4 linked regions of the Homo sapiens genome follow. The protein of the gene in region 3 purifies or fractionates together with the protein of the main gene of each other region. This does not show direct contact. Each region holds a gene or a part of one and is shown on either strand. Other genes may lie near its edges. The genes, in order: IQGAP3, CSTA, HR and THRA.

What was found.
Region 1: the proteins of HR (region 3) and IQGAP3 purify together in Homo sapiens (affinity purification with mass spectrometry; one large-scale study listed by BioGRID and IntAct). This does not show direct contact.
Region 2: the proteins of HR (region 3) and CSTA purify together in Homo sapiens (affinity purification with mass spectrometry; one large-scale study listed by BioGRID and IntAct). This does not show direct contact.
Region 4: the proteins of HR (region 3) and THRA purify together in Homo sapiens (affinity purification with western blotting, with the first as the bait; one study listed by BioGRID). This does not show direct contact.

The regions. Positions count from the first base shown.
Region 1 is NC_000001.11:156,562,566-156,566,065, forward strand, and holds part of IQGAP3 (ras GTPase-activating-like protein IQGAP3), read right to left. Parts: coding exon 3,462-3,500; intron 2,868-3,461; exon of another isoform or gene 2,771-2,867; intron 2,127-2,770; coding exon 2,050-2,126; intron 1,260-2,049; coding exon 1,192-1,259; intron 1,102-1,191; coding exon 988-1,101; intron 748-987; coding exon 569-747; intron 101-568; coding exon 22-100; intron 1-21.
Region 2 is NC_000003.12:122,334,092-122,340,355, forward strand, and holds part of CSTA (cystatin-A), read left to right. Parts: intron 1-3,455; coding exon 3,456-3,557; intron 3,558-6,264. UniProt on the Homo sapiens protein: This is an intracellular thiol proteinase inhibitor. Has an important role in desmosome-mediated cell-cell adhesion in the lower levels of the epidermis.
Region 3 is NC_000008.11:22,112,871-22,119,134, forward strand, and holds the end of HR (lysine-specific demethylase hairless), read right to left. Parts: intron 6,196-6,264; coding exon 6,080-6,195; intron 4,170-6,079; coding exon 4,005-4,169; intron 3,559-4,004; coding exon 3,430-3,558; intron 2,893-3,429; coding exon 2,830-2,892; 3' UTR 1,549-2,829; downstream 1-1,548. UniProt on the Homo sapiens protein: Histone demethylase that specifically demethylates both mono- and dimethylated 'Lys-9' of histone H3. May act as a transcription regulator controlling hair biology (via targeting of collagens), neural activity, and cell cycle.
Region 4 is NC_000017.11:40,064,698-40,070,961, forward strand, and holds part of THRA (thyroid hormone receptor alpha), read left to right. Parts: intron 1-6,264.

The sequences.
Region 1 (3,500 bases), on a different chromosome or scaffold from region 3:
CTCCTGCTCGAGGTCTCTTACCGTTGACATGGTTGATATTGCCCTGGATTTCAGCCTGAGTTAGGTAGTGGTCATAGATGTCCTGGCTTTCTCTGTCATCCTGCAAAAACTCCATTGAAAGGGAACCTGGGAAACCCAATTTAATCTCCTTGTCCTGCTCTTCCCTGCCTGGCTACACTTATTTCTTCTTCTGGGGACCTTCCCAAGGCCAAAGTTCAGTCTGCTCAGAATTCAGGAATTGTGGGGTCTAAAACACTTGGCACTGACATAATTAAGCCAAACCAACCTTTGGAACCTCCAGTCCAATCTCATTCTGTTCTACATTCCAGCACCCCTCTCAGGCTTCCCTGAAGATCATCCCCCAAGAACCTCTTCTCCAGTCTTCTCTTCGGAATTCTCATCATTCTTCCAAGTTCCTTTCCTATTTCTCTAAAATCACTGATAAATTATGGTTTCTCTAAGAAGCAATTTTGGATACTAGAGACATGACAGATAGGAGTCCCGGTTTCACTTGAGACTTTCCAGCCACTCAACTTTTCGGTCCCTGCAACCCAAGACTACTCCTTACATGGTTCCTGGCATTGGCTGCCTTCTCCATCTTGGCCTGGGCCAGCATCTCTTGGTAGACGGCTGCCAGAGGCTCTCGGAGATTCTCCAGAAGAGCACTGGGATTCTGCAAGGCAGCCAGGGTGTCCTCCACCACCCCTCGCTCCACTGCTTCATTGATGGCAAGAACAGCTGCATGGACTGGGAGAGGGCATGGAAACAAGGTCAGGAGGCCAGAGTGAATCCCAGATTGGAGCGCAACCAGTAGCAGCCCACTCTAATGTCATCCTTTTTCCCACCCTCAAGGGCCAGACAAACCAGGTAGCCTGATGGCCCTATCTGTGGATGAGAGCTGGCCAGAACCCATCCAATGGCTGTGAGGCTTGGAGCCCTCCCATACGCATTGAGCCTACTCCTGGCAGGGCAGAGCCTAGTCCTTACCTGCAGCCTCATCCACCGAGAGCTCATTGGCCAAGATGCCCCCGATCTTGCTGAAGGCAGGCAGCTGGAGGCCATATTTGGCCAGTTCGGACGCCATGTTGCTGAGTTCCTCAGCTGCAATGATGCCACAGGTGCCCTTCATCAGGCCCAGAACCCCCAAGACCCTGCCCAGGCTGTGGTGGTCAGGGAAGGAGCTGGGCTTACCTGTGAATTTCACTTTCCCGTATAGATCATGTATCTGAGGGGCCAATCCCAGCCGGAAGAGGAAGAGACTAGGAAAAAACGGAAGGCATTGGAAGGCACTGGGGCCTATTCATTTTGACACTCTGCCCACGATGGGTTTGAAGGGGATACTATGGGGACCTAGAGATGAAGACCACTCAGCACCTGCCCTCAAGTCATCCCCAACCCACATAAAGAAATATGACCATAAATCAGCCCAAGGAAAGTGCTGCAGAAGGTAAATAAGATGGTGTTGGGGGTCTGAGGGGATTAGGAAGGCTTCACAGAGAAGGCCACATTGCAGTAGCAGGTCACTCAATGGAGAGAGAGGACAGGAAGGGCGCAGCAAGCAGATACCTGCTGAGCTAAGGCACAGGGGCACAAAGGGACATGGGAAGTGGTCAGAAAGAGATGGCATGGTAAACACAAGGAACCGGTCGGTCACTTGCTGTGATTTAGCCAACTGGTTGCTGATGGCTGGCTGTAAGTAGGACCAAAGAGCCTACACCATCCATACTAAGTGTCTTGCCTGTGTTGCTCTCAATAGGTCCTGTTCTGATTCCTTTATACCCAGTTACAAACTGAAGGCCCTACCCTGCTACTTTCCTATCTCTGGTACCCTGCCTGCCCTTCCCCTTCACCCACACAGGCCATACATAAATGTGCCCACAGACATGCACAAAAATCTAAACACAACTCTGTAAATCTGAAACCTCACTCTCCTGAGCAGTGCTCCCTGTGGTCTACCCTTCATCCTTCTTTCTTGCTGAGTTTGTTGTTGTTGATTGTTGGTCGCATCCACCTAGAGGAACCTGGATGATAAAATTTGAGGTCTCTCACCTGAGAGCATGGATGCAGTAGACTACCCGGGGCATGTTCTTTTTGTCATAGATGTCCGTGGTCTCTGGGAAGAAGGTCTAGAGGAGAAACCAGCCAGTTACTGCCATTGGGAACCTTTAAGCACCACCAAATGCGGAGAGGGGGTGCCGAGGAATGGGTCTTCCTCTCCAACCTGAGGTGTGTGTTCCCTTGTTACCTGGGGTGTCTAGGTCAGTCTCCCCCAACCATTTCTAGTCAGCCTAGTATAAAAGAAATTCACTGAGGATGCATACTAAGCCAAGGCTCAGCCACAGACACATAGTCCTAGGGTGCCCTGGATTAACCAAACACCAGATAAGGCCATCAAGGCTACAGGATATAAGCCATATCCTCCAAAAACAATAACAGCAACAACAACAAAAAACCAGGCCCCCAGTTGTCTTCCAGATGTCTATAGTGAGCCTGCATGCCTCACCTTAGACCCTTGCCAGAGATGTGGTATGCTGGAGAGCTGGCCTACTCCCATGCAGGGCCCAATGAAGCATATATTGCCAAGGACCACAAAAGTGTCAGGCTGTTATCCCTGTCTCCAAGCCAGCGGCTTCTGATCAATGAGAGCCCTTCTAAGAACCGAGTGGCACCAGGTATGGCTTCTCAATGCCACCTGACAACTGTAATGAGGCCTAACCTCAATATATCTTGGTTATATTTAGATTCACAATAAAAGACCAAATTTAGAGACCTAGAGTGTTCCAGTCCCACTGAAGACACATGACCTCTATTGCTTCTGCCTCCCATCGAAGTGTCTTTACTGCTGTTTCCTGTCTTATAGTGCCTTTCTACAGGGAAGAAAAACAAAGCAGAAAGAAACCATACATTGTAGAATCCTATCATGCCTTCATTTGTATAGCTCTTCACAGTTCACAAAGGGAGTTCACACAGACCATGTGATCTTCCTGACAACACTGTAAGGTAGACAGGGCAGGGCTCACTATCCCCATTTTACAGATGAGTAACAAATTGAGGTTCAAAGAGTGAAATCATGTGTCCAGTTGGGGTTTTGGACCTAGGCTTCTAACTCAAAGTCTGCCACCTAGGGATGTGTATACCCTTGCTTCACACTGTGAAATTTGGTGGAGACAAGGCTGGCCAATACGAGCATGACATAGCAGCCTCCCACCCCCTGCATAATGGGAACCGTGCCACTCAGGCCAGGGAAACTTCACCTCCTTTCATCCACAGGGAAGAGGAGGCAGAGAAAAAAATAACCTGGTTCAAAGACACACAGCTGCAAGGAACTGTTCTCTTAGATTAAGTTAGTTTAGAAGACACATGGAAATAGGGCTAAAGGGTCCAGGGAGATAAAGCATGGGATTGTGGGAGGTGGCTGGTAAGGAGTAAAGATGAATACCAATCTTCAGGCCCAGTATTACCGAAGGCAGACCGATGTGGGCTATTGCAGATAGCCAAAA
Region 2 (6,264 bases), on a different chromosome or scaffold from region 3:
CTGTGCATCCTTTCTCCGCTCTCCTGCCCCTAGCTCTTCCCACTTCTGGTTTGTCCTCACTATTTGTCTTCTCCCTTTCTCCACTTTGAAATTTCATTTCCATCTCAACAGAACAATCACACTTTTCCCGTCTATTCTCAAGGTTACAGGAGAACTGAGTGGTGGTCCGTGGAGTGTTTGGCCTTTCAGAAATGGTCTGAGAACTCACAGTTTGCATATGTCTACATCTTTGAAAACAGTTCTGGTACTCAAACTGAGGCATCAGTAGTAAAGGTTCAAAACATCTGCCCAGGGAGGATTGTTTGAGTCCGGGAATTCGAGGCTGCAGTGAACTATGATCACGCCACTGCACTCCAGCCTGGGTGAGGGGGAGATTCTGTCTCTTAAATTTAAAAAAACAAAAAACAAAAAAAACCTGCCCACTGATAGGAAGGACTGCCTTGGGAGAATCCTAGATGGACTGGAGGCCTGATTGAAGTTGTATGGACATGCAATGCTTTCATGAAGGGCATAAAAGCAAGTTCTCAATAAACAAGGTACATTCAACACAGAGAGTTATATCCTTTTTCCTCCAAAAGACAGAAAAGAATTGGGGTTGAAGGACAAATCCACAGACATAAAGACAACAGGAGATAGGCAAGTACCACCTCAGAAATACCAATAAAATTTTGGAAGTTGGAAAACAGATGAACAATGGAAAATGCTGAGCAGTCTAAACAGAAGCTAAGCCCATAGAGGGGAAAGTCTAAGCCAGAAGCAAGCAGATTCACACTGCAGAACGTCACAATGGCGCAGGCATGAGCAACACCAAAAAGTCGTAGCCAGGAGTAAGGTCTCAGACCAAAAGCAAGAGGACTGATCTGTATGAAGGACAGTGAGACCTCCCATAGTTCCTTCTCCCTCACTGTCCTCCACCCCGGCAGAAGACGAGCTTTACACTTAGCAGGAACTGAGTCAAGAGCTCATAGTAGACTCTTGCATATCAGGCCCAGCTGAGAGTGGGAATGAAGCACTGTACAGAAAGTTGATGGGCTCAGTAAAAGTTTACATATTGAATTTGGGACTGTCTCCCTTCTCATGCTGGGTTCGGGAATGCTGACATTTAAACCCAACCCATATCCCTCCATGGTAGACAGAATGATGGCCCTCCAAAGATGTCCATGTCCTAATCCCTGGAACCTGTGACTAGGTTCCTTTACACAGCAAAAGAGACTTTGCAGGTGTGATTAAGTTAAGGCTCTGGAGATGGAGAGGTTATCCTGGATTATCCAGGTAAGCCCATGCAATCACAGGGTCTTTATAAGAATTATACCCAAATACTGCACTCTAGTTAGTATATTGTTTTCCACAGGGGTATAGGTCAACAATTCTGAAATTATTTTATGTATATGCTAGAACTGAGAAAATAGGCGAATACATTGCAAATAATAAGAACCAGGATTCTTCCTCAGTGTTTGAGAAAGGAGTTATAATAAGGAAAAGGGAAAAGCTAAATGAGTCCTGTGGTATTTGATTTATTTTATTATTTATTTATTTATTTATTTATTTATGTATTTTGAGGCAGAGTTTCACTCTTGTTGCCCAGGCTGGAGTGCAATGGTGTGATCTCGGCTCACTGCAACCTCCGCCTCCCAGGTTCAAGCAATTCTCCTGCCTCAGCCTCCTGAGTAGCTGGAATTACAGACACCCACCATTGCGCCCAGCTAATTTTTGTATTTTTAGTAGAGACGGGGTTTCATCATGTTGGTCACACTGGTCTCAAACTCCTGACCTCAAGTGATCCACCCGCCTCTGCCTCCCAAAGTGCTGGGATTACAGGCATGAGCCACCACACCCGGCCGTGGTATTTGATTTTAATCAGAGGAATACACACACACACACACACACACACACACACACACACACGTACACACACATATATAATGTATATATATAATGACACACAGATAAATGTGTGTATATATGCACACACATACACAAATGCGTAAAGATGTGTGCATGTGTGAGTACACATATTATTTTGTAGCCCTTTCCACTGAGTGGGCCTAGAAGCAATGACATTTAGTAACAAGAGACACAGCACCCAAATCTTGGGTCTTAAATACCGTTCTCCAATAAAAGGAGCAGGGACTCCTTGGAGAAATAGTTGATTCCAGTGAGGAGGCAAGGAAACTTCAAGATAAACCTGGAACATCTGACTCTACTTTTGTAGAGTCAGAAAGTAAGGAAGTGCTTATAAAATGATGGAGGCATGTTGAAAGAACACAGGCATCAGGTGAAGGAGCTCCCAACGGCCAAATCTAGGGCATTTGAGTAACAAAATAGAGTAATGAATTGTAATCCACAGAGTAAAAGAAATATCCATGAGTCATATTAATATAAAATAAGTAATTGACTACATAAAGAGGAGAGAGGGAACAGCTCTTCCTTATGGCAGAATTCCAGATAATAAATGCACAAGAAATGATTTTTTAATTACCATTTGGCCAACACCACAATTAATCATTGTTGTAGGCAAGAACCATCAATGGATGCTAAAATTCATGTATGAAAGTATGGCGAGAAACAAGACTCCTCACAAGACACTTACTAATTACAAAGGGGAAAAAAATGGTAACTTTACCGTGGAGAAACCTGGCAGACATCCTAAGTGATCAAAATTAACATCACCAGTAATGAAACGTAGCTCCTGATAGGATGCACTTAAGCACAACATCACGTTTGTGCTATCCTTACAAACATGTATAATACTAACATAAGAGGAGATCACACAAACCTAAATTGAGAGACATTCTACCATTTAACAGGCCAGTATTCTTCAAAAACATCAAGGCCATGAACAAAAAGGAATGAACCCAGATTGTAGGAGACTGAGGAGAAATGACAACTAAATGCAATGTAGGATCCTGCATGAGATCCTGGAGCAGAAAAGAGACATTTTCAGGAAAACTGGCAAAATTCTGATAAGGTTTAGAGACTACTTAATAGTATTATACCATGTTAATTTCCTCATTTTGGTGATTATACTATGTTATGTAAAACGGCAAAATTAAGGGAACTGTAAATGATATAAGAGAATTCATTATACTAATTTTACAACTTTTAAGTCTGAAATCATTTTAAAATAATGTTTTAATCAAGTAGTAATTATTGCTCCACTGATTTTTATTAATCAAAGATACATATAACTCTTAGAGTTTTAGCAGTCAAAACGCTCCTATATTGCATTACCACACTGAGTTGATGTGAATTCAGCCTAAAGCAACAAAATTTGACTTTTTAACCTATGTAATTGTATTAAAACAGGTGTTTTCTATTGAAATAATAAAAATAGTTCATAGATTTCATTACCATCTTTGAAGACTTTTAGGAGGATGAGGTTCCCAGATGGGTACATTGCATACATGGAGTCTAATATAGCTTTGATTATTTGTTTCCTCTTTTCTTTTCTTTAGGTTAAACCACAGCTTGAAGAAAAAACAAATGAGACTTACGGAAAATTGGAAGCTGTGCAGTATAAAACTCAAGTTGTTGCTGGAACAAATTACTACATTAAGGTTAGAGTTCAGCACCTACTTTAGCGCCAAAAGATGTATTTCTCATTTTATGTAAAATATTCCCTGATTTCCCTACCACATAATTCCTTCCTTACGGTTGTCCTAAATTAAGATGCCCAGCATGATTCCTTCCAAGTGGTGGACTCTCAAATTTGGTAGATGATGTGACACCATTTTTTTTCTTGTGAATTCAGAAAGTTTTATTACATTGATTCTTGATTTCTGGAAATTGTATAGAAAAAGATTTCATAACAGTTCAGGGCATGCTGGATTTGTGGCTGTGCTGCTGCTTAGGTAAGGAGGGAGGATCACGTCTCATCTGCCTGAAGGTGTGGGGCTGGACCACATGGTATCTTGAAGCTGATTCTACCTCAAAGCTGTATGATTCTCTATGTCTAAATTAAATAAATTAAAGTAACGACTCAAATCATTAGCTGGGAAAATAATTTAAACCTTTTTTGCCCTTCAATTAATATAATGTAAATACTATTTTGTAACTCAAATTAGATTTAACTTGTGGCACTCTAGGCATAGTTTAAAAGAGTGGAGTATTTAAAATAGTTTAAAAGTTAATTTTATAGCTCTGTCAAAAAATTACACAATGCATTGATCGAGTTCTAATTGAAGTTATCAAGAGGAAACCAGTTGAACAAGTCAACCATGAATATTTGAGAGCCATGTTTGTCCTTATATATTAAGAAGATGATAATGCTGATTTTAAAAATAAAAACAAATATTCAAGTATATTTACTTAATCTTTACTTCACTATTTGACCAGGGCACAGTGTGGCTTATTTCTCTTTAACAAATATTTCTATTAAAATATAAACATTTTAAAAGATTTTTTCAGCAAAAAAAAAAAAAAAAGTAAGTGAAGTAAGTGGAGCTAGTCAGCTCAGCATAAGAAAGTTTCAGTACAGAGCTATGTACACAGATCAGCCCTGTTCTGCCAAATGTGAGCTCCTAGTAACGACCAGGTCCCGGGGAGACACATGTGAAAGAGGACCCTGCTGTATCCTCAGAAAACAATGGCACCATTTCCTCCATTCTCAATCTGCTTTCTTCATGGCTGGAAAAGAAAGTTTTCCAGTTAAAAATGATTATGTGCAAAGATAGGAAACATTCCATCAACATTAACATATTTAATAATTTATGATTAATTCAAATGCATAAATTTCACATATTACCAGCTCACATGTTTCTTCAACAGTTCATCAGATAACTATCTTGAAAATTTCTGCTTGAAAATTTGTTCCCTTGACCACCCTTTTGCCCTCTCTTAATCAGTCTCCTCTCTCTCTCTCATCTTTTCTTCCTTCTGCTATCAAACTTTTCCTACTGGATCTCAGCCACCGATCCCAGTTCCCTTTTACTTCCTGGTAGTCTGGCTGTTGATCCCTTTGCTCTGAGGCACTCTAGATTTAAGGTCTTGCCAGTGATGTGACCTTCTCTATGTATTTCAAGTACCTATCAAGAGGTAGGTGGTAGAATGGAAGGACCACAAGCTTAGGTGTCAGAGTGTCCTGGGTTTGAACCCTTGTTCAATTTGTTCTATGGGAAGCTCCTCCTCCTCTCTGAGCCTTCATTCCCTTATCTGCACAATGAGGGTAATAATCTACTTCGCAGCGTGTTGTGAGGAATAAATAAGCTGGAAATTTATTGAGCACTTATAATTCACTATGCACTATTCTAAGAACAGGGCTTATCTCATTTAATCCTCACAACAAATCTATGAGATAAGTACAATCACTTCTCTTGGGTTACCAACGAAAAAACTGAGTTCCAGGGTGGTGAAGAAACTAAAAAGATCACACAACTACAAGAGCAGAGTCAGGATTTGAACCCAGATAGACTGAGCTTAACTACTGGCTGTGCTGCCTCTAATATAAAGCACAAAATAAGAGCTTTTACAAGGTTACACTGGCCTGGTGTGGTGGCTTATACCTGTAATCCGAACACTTTGGGAGGCCAAGGTGGGAGGATAGCTTGAAGCCAGGAGTTTGAGATCATTCTGGGCAACATAGCAAGACCCTGCCTCTACAAAGAAAATGTTTTAATTACCTAGGCATGGTGATGCACACCAGTAGTCCTAGCTACTTGGGAAGCTGAGGTAGGAGGATCACTTGAGCCGAGGAGTTTGAGGTTGCAGTGAGCTGCGATCGCACCACTGCACTGTGAGCCAGGCCTCATTCCCCGATCAGTACCCCCCAAAAATGTTACATTGTAGAGTGAAAAGAATGTAGATGCTAGAGGCTAACAGATCTGGGTTTGAATATTGGCTGTGCCACTGACTAGCTGAGAGATTTATGGAAAATCACTTAATCTCTCCTACTCTGCTTCCACGTCTGTAAAAATTTCATTGCTCCACTTTTCTTCAGGCCTATAATATAGGTTAATATAATCATTTATATAAAATGTTCATCATAGTGTCTGGCTCACAGTAAACATTTGATATATGGCATTTGTTAAAATTAGGATAGGAAGTGACATCAGAAGCACAATAAATATTTGTATAAGACAAAGCATTTATTGTCTCCAGCAAGAACCAAAGTAAAAATTCTTACCATAATTTTCCAGGTCTCAGATTCATGTCCAAACTACTGCTTCTGCTTCAACCTTCCTACCAATGACTTCCTAGTAAAACCCCTTAGCTTTTTTTTTTCTTTTCTTTTTTGAGACGGAGTTTCACTCTGTCACTCAGGCTGGA
Region 3 (6,264 bases):
GCGGTTAAGAGGAGATAAGGTCTTGAGGGGAAGACAGAGGTTTAGTGGTGCACTGTTCCCACCCCAATGGGTAAAATTCAGAGAACCATCTTCCCACAGGAAATACTCCAGATTTGGGGTTCTGAGGTGACATCAGGACATGGCTACAGAAGATGAAGTGGGGCATGGTGGATCACGCTTGTAATCCCAGAACTTTGGAAGGCCAAGGTGGGCACATTGCTTGAGCCCAGGAGTTCGAGACCAGCCTGGGCAGTGTGGCAAGACCCTGTCTCTACAAAAACTACCAAAATTAGGCATGGTGGCATGCACCTGTAGTCCCAGCTACTCAGGAGGCTGAGGTGGGAGGATGGCGTGAGTCCGGGAGGCAGAGGTTGCAGTGAGCTGAGATTGCATCACTGCATTCCAGCCTGGGTGACAGAGTGAGACCCTGTCTCAAACAAAAGATGAAACGTAGGTAGGAATGGGTCATTCGGGGCCACTTGGAACATGATCAGCTATAAAGCACGTACATTGGAAGAAGAAGGACAGAGAGGAGGGCAAGCCTGTCTTTAAATTCCACTAAGAGTTAAGACTATAATGTACACAAGGTGTCTTGACTCAGAAAACTTGGTTCAAATCCCAGTTCTTCCACTAAAATTGCTATGCGACCTTGGGTAATTTACTTAATTGTAGCTTGCCTGTTTCTTCTTCTGTAAAATGGAAATAAATCCTATCTGTCTTAAAATCCTGATAACGGATTAACTGAGATCATTTTAATAAAAGGGATTAAATGAGATAAATTATTATTATTATTATTATTATTATTATTATTATTATTATTTTGGAGGCAGAGTTTTGCTCTGTCTCCCAGGCTGGAGTGCAGTGGCATGATTTCGGCTGACTGCAATCTCCACCTCCCAGGTTCAAGCGATTCTTCTGCCTCAGCCTCCCGTGTAGCTGGGATTACAGGCGCCTGCCACCATGCCCAGCTAATTTTTTTTTTTTTTTTTTTTTTTTTTTTTGGTATTTTAGTAGAGACAGGGTTTCACCATATTGGCCAGGCTGGTCTTGAACTCCTGACCTCAAGTGATCCACCCGCCTCTGCCTCCCCAAGTGCTAGGATTACAGGCGTGAACCACGTCGCCTGGCCAGATGAGATAAATTAAATGAAAACAAAAGCAAAGTAAACTGTAGAGTTCTCAGTTTTTTCTTTTCTTTTCTCCTCTTTATCCCATAAAAAAATGAAAATAACTGAGTTCTCCAAACAATGAAAGAAGCCCTACATTTTTTTTTTTAAATAAAGCATAGTTTTGTAAATCATGGCAAAGCCACTTAATGGAATATAAGCAGTCATTTAAAATGAAGATTAGGTAGCAACACAGAAAATGATTATGATATGGTGTCGAAAGAAAGAAACCAAGGACAAAACACAGCAATCCAGCTATGTGCACAGCAAATCCTTGGGGAAAGCACTGGGAGGGAATATGCCAAAATACTCATAGTAGTTGGAGGTGTGTAATGATGGGCTAGAAGGTGACTTTCTTATTTTCTGAATGTTCTGAAAGTATATTACCCTTATAATAAAAAACTTTATTTAATAAAAAAAATTCCCCAAACCACAGCAGGAACAATTAGGTATGACAAGAGTGGGAGTGTTTTTCTTTGTAGGGCTGAGATACACAAAGGAAGCGGGAGAGGGCGGAGCGCCACCAGGAGGCTGCGGGCGTGGAGCGGGGACAAGGAGGGGTCGGCTGTCTGAAGCAGTCAGGCTCAGTCCCAGGGTGGCTGGGCCTGGCGTCGGCCATGGCCACTGCCACCAAGGGCAGACAGGCGGGGCAAGGGCTCTTCTGGGCCATACTTCTGGATCTCCAGGTCAGGGTAGACGGGAGAGATGGGGCGGACTGGAGCTTGCTGGGTGGAGTAGGGCTCGGGAGTCTCTGCACAGGGAGGTCACCTCGTGGCTGTGCCCCAGGACTCTGCCTTGCCTGCTCTTGCACTCAGGAGCATCTTTGGGGGACAGCCCCCCACCCCACCCAAAGTCTCCTCAGTGGGAGGCAAGGCCCCAGGCCCCAGACGAAGAGCAGGCAGTGGTGTCCTGTCCCTTGGGCCCCAGCTCCGGGCTGCCCTACTCCATTTGTCTCTAAGGCAGATTTCCATGTCCCCCTCCCTCCCTGGACCATGTGGCCTGCAGGGGCAGGGCCAACCACACTGGCAGCAGTCACAAAACAACAGACTTTAATGGAAATCATGAAGGAGGGAAGCGGGCGGACCGGGAAGGGGCTGAGTGACATCGCCCATGCCGCTCCCTCCGCCAAGCCTGAGCAGCTCCTGATGCCACCCTCTCCTCACACTCCCCAGATCTTTTGGCAGGAGGGCAGAAGGTTGGAGGCCCCTTGTTCAGCATGCCTGCAGTGAGCCCAGTGAGGATGCGGTGGTAGAAACGGAGCTGGGGCAGTAGAGTGGGCTCAGCGGGAGTGAGCAGCAGGAGGAGGTGTTGTTTAAGCCAGAATGATTCCCAAGTTTCCCCAAGGAAGGGCTGTTTGTCTCCTGGGTCTCGGAGGAGTGGGGATTGGAGGAAGTCAATTGCCCCCAGTGCGGGCCTGGTACCATGAAAAGGGGCACAGGGTGGGGGAGATGCCAGCCTGAGAAGGACAGGTGTGAGCTTGGTGGCACTGTGGTTGTTGGCTTAAGGGGGAGGGGAACAGAGTGCCCTGCTTGTGCCCAGAGTGGTGCTTGTGGGGTTGACCAGAAATCCCCAAGTCCCCTAGCGCCATCCCCTGCTGAAGTTGTGCCTGGGCTGAGCACCTGGTCTACCTGTCCCCACCCCGATCCCAGACACCTAGCATCCCTCTATTTGGCCTCCTGTAATGTCCCCACGGCCACCTTCACTGCTTGGAACACAGCCCAGTCCATCTAGGAAAAAGAGAGAGGACAAAGCATTTTCAACTACATTCCTGGGCCCACCCGCTGTCCCCCACCCTACTTAAAAGGAATACTCTGGCCAGATGCGGTGGCTCACACCTGTAATCCCAGCACTTTGGGAGGCCAAGGTAGGTGGATCATTTGAGGTCAGGAGTTCAAGACCGGTCTGGCCAACATGGTGAAACCCCACGTCTACTAAAAATCCCAAAAAAATTTAACCAGGCATGGTGGTGGGCGCCTGTAGTCCCAGCTACTTGGGAGGCTGAGGCAGGAGAATCACTTGAACCCAGGAGGCGGAGGTTGCAGGGAGCTGAGATAGTGCCACTGCACTCCAGCCTAGGTGACAGAACAAGACTCCATCTCAAAAAACAAAATGAAACAAACTAAACAAAAGGAATACTCTGCCCCTGCACAGGGTGGCTGCCTGCTTGGCACAGGGTGGGATCTGCTATGTCCACTGCAGCTGTGGCACAGGGAGGTGGGAGGCTTGGGTAGCACACCCAGCCTGCTGGCCCACATCCCACTCACCTGGGCATAAAGCAGGTGGCAGTCAGGGGGAAGGCTGGGTCCCTGGTGGCAGAGCTGAGCAGAGAGGGCAGAGGTCTCAGGGGAGAGGAAGTGCTGAGTGACGCTGACTGTGCTCACCAGGCCCTGCACCTGTGTCGGGGGGACATGGACAGTGAGGCTCAAGATCACACATCCTCTCCCTGTCCCCCTGGTCCCTGAGGTTCGCTTCCTCTAATGACAACCACCCCCGACCCCTGGCTCTCAGAGAGCAGATTCCTGGATGCACCACTGGACACCTCAAAGCCTGTGGCCAAAACCGGGACTCAGAACTGCTGGAGAGACCCTAAAGTCTCCCTGCGAGCCCCCTGACATCAGCATGCCCAGGAGACCAGGAGTGGACTCTGGCGCCAGTCCCAGTTGGGCTCAGTGACTTCAAGGCCTCTTGGCTCCCCCGTTATCTCTTCCCCACAGCAGCGTGCGGCTCCCTGCCCTGCCCGGCTCTTGGGTATTGAGGGGATGTTGGATGCCTGCGGCCTTGATTGGGTCGCTTCTGCCATCCTGATCTCCCCGCAGAGCCCCTGCCCGCTGGGAAGCACCTGGTGGGGAGCCCCTGCAGGCACCAGCACGGCCTCTCCGGGGGCCTGGAGCAGGGTCCAGCAGCTCACGCCCCACTCCTCCCGCAGGCGCCGCCGCAGCCCTGCATCCAGGTAGCAGCTGCCTGGGGCGCCAGGCTCCAGGGCGCCTGCCCCGGCCGGGCACACCTCAAAGAAGAGAAGGGGGAATGAGCGAGATGGGGAGGGAAGGGCAGGGCTGCAGGAGGATGGGGCATGGACTTTCCAGAGGCCAGGGGTGGAGAAAAGAGCCGAAGGGTCAAGTCTTGAAGGGCAGGCAGGGAGGGCATGGCTGAGTTTGTTTGGGGCTGGGGCAGCTCAGGTTGGCAGAACACACATTTGGCTGGAAGGAGCTTAGAAGGAAGGGATTCAAGGCCCTACAGTTGGGCAGACTGAATCCCTGCTTTTCTGGGGCTGGAGGCCTTTAACAGCCTCTGTGACCTCGGCCCCTCTCCTCCCTCTCTCAATGGTACCCCTTTCTGCAAATCCGAGGGAGACGTCCTGCATAATCCCAGTTCATAAACTGTCTACCAGGACTTCTTCATCTGAAGTCTTTGGAATGGCCAGAATTGTGTGCTAAGTGGTGGATGAGGAGAGAGCTGTGTGTCCCTGGGGAGACAACTCAAAGTGTTCATCAGGGTCTCCCTAAGATTCCGGATGCAGAAAAGGGAAGGACCACTGCGAGGCTCTGAGTGCCAGCAGGTGAACAGGCTTTCCGGCCAGGCTGAGGCCTCTGCAGCAGCCACAGCTACGGGGACCTCACAAGCCTAACCAGAGCAGGGAGCTCTCTGGGCAGGCAGGGACTCGCAGAGGACAGAGGTGCCCAGGGAACATGTGCAAAGGGGACGCCAGCATCGTGCTCCAACCCACCACCAGCCCAATCCACCCCCTTTGGCAAGGACCTCAGCCATTGCCCCTGGGCTTAGGGCTGCAAGATGGGGCGTGGGGGAAGGGAAGGCTGGTGAAGCAAATTGGACCCTAGGGGAGTCCCAGCTGGGTGCCAAGATTCCTTTGCCCTTGGAGATTCAGCTCCATCCTGGAGCTGAGCAGTGTTTCCCAGGCCACCCAGGGAGACTGTGCCCCTCAGCCCTGCCCCGTGAGTCACTGGGTTGGGCCGTAGTGACTGCCCACGGCCAGCCACACCCAGCCCAGAAGAGGCCATCTGTGTGTGGAGGTGTGCTTGTCTGCTCCCCTCTGCGTGTCCCAGCATCTGTGTGTGTATCTACACATGTGTGTACCTGTGGGCAGGAGGGGTGCACACCATGCTGGCCTCTGCACGTCTCCGTGTGTGTGTGTGCCTTGGCGAGGGGTGACACTAGGTGGAAGTCTTTTCCCCAGGATAATGAGGGCTCAGCTGGACTTGGGAACCACGGGGCTGCCCTCGCCTTACCCCTGGACTCTCTCCTCCCCTGCGCCTCAAGCTTCTTGCCTCCAGCCCACCCCATCACCTTCCCCTTCCCTGGCTCCTCACCTGACCCATCTCTCCCTCCACTTCCCTCAGCCCCCTTCCTTGCTAGCCCCTCCGGGAGCATCTCCTCCAGGCAGTCTCCCCTAACAAGATGCAAATACCAAAAGGTGGGCAGCCGGACGGAGTCTCAGAAGGCAGAGGAGGCTGCCTGCCTCCAGGAAGAGCATAGAGTAGTGACCTGGGGCCATGACAGACAGAAGCTCAGATCCCAGCCCTGCCACTGAGCTTCGGTGTTCTCATCTGCCAATGGGAAAGGAGCAGTGCCTGCCTCATGGGGCGGGGGGCTGAGACGGGTAACAGATAATTGTGCCTAAGGCCCTAGCACCACGTCCAGCCTCGGGCAGCTGGTGCTCTCATTTCATCATCGGGTCCAGGCTCTCCTGCCGCAGCCCCTGCCCCTTCTCTGAGCCCCACGGCAGAACTCCGGGTCCCCTCTGCCTTCTCTGCACCTGTCTGTGCGAGTTGGGTCTGTGCAGCTCACCTGAGGGCGTGGGGCAGGGAGCGAGCACATGGGACCGCACACTGGGGTGGGACTGGACGAGCTTCTAGGGCTGGGCGGGGGGAAGGGGAGGGCTCCCGGCTGCCTCCTCACCATCTGGAGAAAGCGGCGGATGCGCTGGGCGTCCTGTGCCCGGAACACGTGCCACACAGTGCTGACCTGGCTGCCCGGAGACCAGAGCCCCTCCCCGTCCAGGCCTGAAAGGAAGTCTGAGGAGGAAAGAGCGCTCAGGCAGGCCCAGGGCTGGTGGCGACAAACACTCACCTCTGTAGCTTGTC
Region 4 (6,264 bases), on a different chromosome or scaffold from region 3:
CTCTTGGAGACCTGGGAGAATCACTTAAAGAGCTCTGGATCCCACGCAGAGCCTAGCACAAGGGCTGCTCTGTAAATACTTGTTAGTTGATTGACTGTGGAACCTGCAGACACAGGTGCACTCATTTGCACATGGTCCCCTGAACTCAGGTGCAGAATGAGTTCACAAGGCCCAGGTCCCCACAGTTGCAGGTCCACACCAACAGTCGTGTCCACACAACCCCAGATACACACAACTGCAGCCTGTGCAGCCGAGCACACACTTAGATGCACACAATCACAAATTTTTCCCCTTCAGCTTCCTCCTCCCCTTTTTCCTCTAGGCTCAGCCACTGTGCGGGAATGGGCTGTTTTTTTTTTCTTTCTTTCTTTTAGAGGGACAGAGAAACAAGAGCAAAGACAGTGGGTTCAGGGGGGTTCCAGAGGGCCGAGTCATGGGCTCAAAGCAGTGTCCAGTGACTTCTAGAAGCTAGGATTCTCTTGACTGTTGGGGAAGGGGAGAGCTGCTCTCCTCCCTACCCTAAAAGCTCAGGGGTGTCTAACTGCCCCTGCTCTGAGTCATTTGCCTGGGTCTTTCCTGGGAACAGTCAGTCACTTCCAGCTGAGTTCCTGCGCCCCACCTTGAGTCTGGCCCTTTTTCCCACCTGTACCCTCCTGTCCAAACTTGGAAGCTTTCCTTAAGAGGCCATCGGCTGGCGAGTGTCTGTGTGAGTGATATGTACTTTTGACTTGGAATTTCTCTCTAACTCTGTCTCTCTGTTGCTCTGTCTTGCAGTGTCTGATTCTCCCTCTCTCTCTCCTTGTTTCTCTGCCAGTCTGTAACTCTCTCTCACCCTGTTGCTACCCCCGATCTACCCCTGTCCTTGTCTCAGAGCTGGGGACTGGCAGCAATGTTCTTCATACTTTTCCAGTTGTTAATACCCAAGCTCCGCCCCTCTGCCCCCCCTGCGCAGCCTCTGGGGTCAGCTTGAGGTTGGGGTGGGGGGCGGGGGGCTCAGCTGGCTGCTCAGGACTTCCTGCACTTCCTTAGTGCCGCAGCTGTGGCCAGCAAGTTTTAGGGGCTGGGAATGGGGGAAGGGGGGGGGGGTCAGCCACTGCCCATGCTGACCCCTCGGGCCTGCATGTCTGGAGACACCAGTTCTGTGGGCACCCTCAGGGTGCAGGCTGCAGCCAGCTAGCAGCTCTTAAACAAGCCATGAAGAGGCTCCCCCCACACTGGCCCAAGCTGGAAAAGAACCGCCCCCATGGGCAGTGGCGGGAGCTGGCAGGACCCTGCTGAGTTGGGTCCACTGCAGGGCTCACAATGGCCTTTCTCCACACCCCTGGCAGCTGAGGCCCACCTCAGAGATGCCCAACAGCTGTGTCCTTTTTGCCCAGCCTCAGGGCCTGGTTCTGAGGGCACAGCTGCCTAGACTAAGTATGTACTAAGCGAGGCCCTCCCACCCGTGAGTGCAGGTTCCAGCCTAGAAGGGGTACCTCTTCTGGAGAGGGAATTTGAGGAGGGGGAACTCAGGCAGGAGACATCGAGCCCGGGGGCACCAAGCACTTCTCGCTATGCTCCCCTCTAGCCTTGGACTATTTGGAGGTGGAGGCACTTGGCAGAGAACCCACAGGGCAGCTACAGAGGGGAAAGACTGAGGCTTGGTCTCAGGGAACACATAGCTGGATGAAAGAACAAGGCATTGGGCCGGGCACAGTGGCTCACACCCGTAATCCTAGCACACTGGGAGGCGGAGGCAGGCAGATCACCTGAGGTCAGGAGTTCAAGACCAGTCTGACCAAGATGGTGAAACCCCATCTCTACTAAAAATACAAAACTTAGCTGGGTGTGGTGGCGGGGTCCTGTAATCCCAGCTACTCAGGAGGCTGAGGCAGGAGAATCGCTTGAACCCAGGAGGTGGAGGTTGCAGTGAGCTGAGATTGTACCACTGCACTACAGACTGGGTGACAGAGCGAGACTCCGTCTCAAAAAAAAAAAAAAAAAAAAAGAAAAACAAAAAAGAACAAGGCATTATCTATCAAGCAGGTGATATACCATCACAGCTAAGAACAGAGATGATGGTGATGATCATGACGGCCATGATTGACCTGGACTGCCTAGGTCTGAATCCCAGCTCTGTCACTTGCTGGATGTGTGACTTTGAGCAAGCGATTTAACTTCCCCGTTGCCTCATCTGTAAATTGGGGATGATCATATCTACCTCATTTAGCTTTTTTGAGGAAAAATGTTTTTAAAAGTGCCTAGTTCATAACAAACTGTATATGTGAGCGGTTGTGATGGGTGAAGGAAGCTGTGGGCCTGGGGTCTCCCAGATTTCTTAGAGAAGCTTCGTGGAGAATTGGGTCTCCTAGACATCAGTGAGACTGGGGCCTGGGGCAGTGGGTCTCCAATTTCCAGCCTTCTCACCGTCATGTAATCTTTTCCTCCCAGACAAATTTTTGCAGCCTGGAATGAGTGTATGGGAAAGAGCCCAAGGCAGGCCCCTCTGCCCCACCCTCCTTTGACCCTCGCCCTTCAGCTTACAAGGAGCCCTTGGCCCCTCAGCCTGGGACACACCCCACCAGCTAGGGGCACCTGCATAAATCTTTGGGCATCACTGCATCTCTGTTCAGGGTCTGAGCTCTGGGGGTGGGAGAGAGAGAACAAGGAAAGCCGTCCCCTCTCTTATGTGTGGGCTCAAAGAGGAGGCAGTGCCCTTCCTCCCTCCTGGGAGCCCAGCATTGGTCAACCAGGACCCAGCTCTGGCTGATAGGCACCAGATTCCCCTGCCCTCCATGGAGTGGTACTTAGTGTGAAAGGTGGTGGCAGAGAGAAACTGAAGCACTGAGTAATGACCAGTGTGGTGGGCACAGCACTTTGAGATCCAGCATCTGTCCTGGGTTGCCTCTTTGCCTTTGTGAGTCTGGTGATCAGGATCCCCTCTCCAAACCCCTTTTATTTAGCCCTGCCCCTCAAGGTGAAGGAAGGACAATGGGAGGATACCCTGTAGGGGTGACGGGAAGCCTTTGGAGTGGGAACCAATCTCAACTCTAGTTCTCGGCTGGGCACAGTGGCTCATGCCTGTAATCTCAATATTTTGGGAGGCCAAGGCGGGAGGATCACTTGAGGCCAGTAGTTCATGATCAGCCTGGTCAACATAGTGAGACCCCATCTCTAAAAACAACTTTAAAAAGTTAGCCAGGTGTGGTGGCGCATGCCTGTGTTACCAGCTACTTGGGAGGCTGAGGCCGGAGGATCGCTTAAGCCTGGAAGGTCGAGGCTGCGGTGAGCTGTGATTGTGCCACTGCACTCTAGCCTGAACAACAGAGTGAGACCCCCCACACACACATCCTCTCAAAACAGACAGAAAACAAAACAAAAAACCCAACTCTAGTTCTCATGGCTGCAAAGGTGTCTAGGGGACTTTGGAGAACTGTTGTGTCTCTTGGGGAGGGAGGCAAGCATGACCGTGGTGGGAAGATCACTGGCTGGGAGTTGGGAGGCCTGGCTGTTGACATTCACTAGTCGTATGACTTTGGGCCTGGGTTTTCATTATCTAGAGACAATGGTTCCTGTCTCACTCAGGTTGAGGGCAAATAACACAAGGTGGGATGACCCCTGTGTTCAATCCATGTTGCATCCTGGCATGGTGAGCAATGCCTGTGGATTCTCCTTTTTTCCCAGGGCCTGGCACATGCCAGGGTGGGGCATACACATGCTGCCTGGAACCAGAGACAGTTCTCAGTCTCTCACTGAAGTATCTGGGGCTGGTGTGTGGTGGGGGCACATGTGGTTCCACCTTGGTGTCACTTGGCAGGCCAAAGCTGGGGTCATAGGGACCTCCCTCCGGTATGCCATTGCGTGAGGTGGTCCAGAGGGAGGGTCAGAAGTTTGCTGGGTAGACAAGGGAAGCAAGATGGGTGTTACTGGTGCCCAGGAAATACTATCCTTGCTTCGCTGTTTTGGGGGTGGGCATTAAAGGTTGATACCAAAGCCTCAGCCATGCCCCTCAGCAGTGGCCAAGAGCAGAATGATTGGACCAAGCCCCTGGCCCACCTCCTCCTCCTCCTCTTTTCCTCTTCTAAAGAAGAGATCGGCTCTTGGCTCCCAGAGCCCCAGCTGCCTGTTTCTTTTTCTCTTTTACCAGGCATGGGGGTGGGGAAACAGGGGAACCGAGGCTTTGGTGTCTTTCGGCATTTTTGTACACATCAGTGAGTGGGTGTGTTGTGCACGCATCCATGTGAGAGTGTTTTTGTGCATGTGTGGGCTGGGGAGGGCTCTGAATATCTCCTGGAACGGTACCCAGAGCCCTGTGGCTCTGCGCATGCGGGGTGAGTGTGTGTGTCTGCACGTGTCCGTGTGTGTGCCGGAGACTCAGCTGCATTCACGCGCGCGCTCTCTCCCTCCCTCTCTCCCTCCCTCTCTCTCTCCCTCCCTCCCTTCCTCTTCCCTCTCCCTCTCTCTCTCCCCCTCCCCCTCTCTGTCTCTCCCTCCTTCTCTCCCTCCCTCTCTCTCTCTCACACACACACTCTCAATCTTTCTCTCTTCCCTCCCCCTTCCTCCCTCCTTCCTATTCCCTCCCTCCTCCCTTTCTGTCCCTGTCTCTCTGTCTCTGTCTCTGTCTCTCTCTCTCTGCCTCTGCCAGTTCTGCTTGGTTAGGGGCTAGCTCCAGCCTCTGGGGTGCCTGGGAGAACATCCCTCCCTTTCTTTCCCCCTCCACCATTCCCTCCCCTCCTAGGCCATGCTCTTCAGGGCTTGCAGGCAACTTCTTCTACTGCCTTAGATGAGGGAGTGAGGAGGGAGGACCCCAAGCCTTGTGCCCATGGTGCCATCTGCAGCAAGTGCCTTGGCCCCGTGACATTCATGCCTCCAGCATTCAGCTGCCCCAGCTCCCAGCTCCAATTACCCGCTGGCTGCTGGGGGAGGGTGGGGAGAATGTGCCGTGCCCAGCTTGGGGGTGCTCCTGCTTCTGCTTTCTTGGCTACTTGGATCTCCTGCCTCCATTCCTGAGGGGAATTGGGCAGGGGGGGCGTGAAGTTCTGTGGGCTGATAAGGAGGGGCTGAGTTCTCCAGCATGGGTGTGGGCATGACCACCCACCAGTGGTCATGGGGGATGGATGTGACCTGGGAGGAGACCTCCAGACCTGGGCACCCACCTTGATGCCTGGCTGGAGCTGGCCCGGGCAGGAGGAGGGAGAGGAGAGCAGCAGGTGGGTGAGGCTATGGGGGAGCCGAGTGGGAAGCAGTCTTTGATGTTAATACTGGGCATCTGGCCCAAGTCAAGGCTGCTGTTTATGTCTTTCTGTCTCTGACCTGCAGGGGGGGTTTCCTGTTATATTCTTTTGGGGCGGGGTGGGGAGGATCCTTTGTTTAAGTAACCAATCTCCCCCTTATGAGGATCCCCACCCCATCTCCCATTCTCTAGCCTCTAAGGTCCCACAGTGGCTAGGTGATGAGTCACTGCCCCCCAGCTCCAGAACCTGTCTCCTGGGGGCCCAGTGAGAGCTCACCAAGGGGTGCCGCCTCCCCTCCTCCCGTCTCCCCCATGCCTGCCAGGCTGGGGCCCTGAGTCTGTGTGTACTCCTCTGCCACATCACACCTGCCAAATAGTACCTTCCTTCCCGCCTTCACTCCTCCTCTCCTTCCTGGCACTAGGATAACAGAGAGTTGGGTGGGGCAGCCCTGCTCAATCCATACCTGAGAATAGAACAGGGGGTATGGGAAAGGACAGGGAGTCCCGGTCCTAGAGAGGCCTCTGCCCCTCAGCATGGGGGCACATGTCGCTGCTGCAGCACTGCCACCACCACAGACTCCCAGGGGCCCTTGGTGTGGGTGGCTGCCTGTGGTGCCCGTGTTGGCATGGGGGGCAGTGCTGCCCATAGACGCCTGTGCCCATGCATGCCCATTTATGTGTCTGGGCCACGGTGGCCGCCCCGGCCCCTCAGCATCGCCCTTCCTGGCTCCCATGGTGGGAGGCTGGGTGATCAGGAGTGGGTGGTGGGGGAGGGATCTCCCCCCACCCTAGCAGCAGGCAGAGGGGAAGGGGAGAGGGAGGTGTGAACCTACCCACAGAACTATTAATAGCCCACATGCCAGGCCACCAAGAACCAGCTGTCACCGTGGAAACCATTCCTACGCCCCCCTCCCCCCAGCCTGCATGGGGTGGGACTTAGACAGGGTACGAAGCCCCCCACCCATCTTTCTTTGTTACCTTTCTCTCTTTGTCTCCCCTCCTTCATGTGTCTCTCCTCCCTTTATCTGTCCTCCTTTCTACCTCACCCCTTC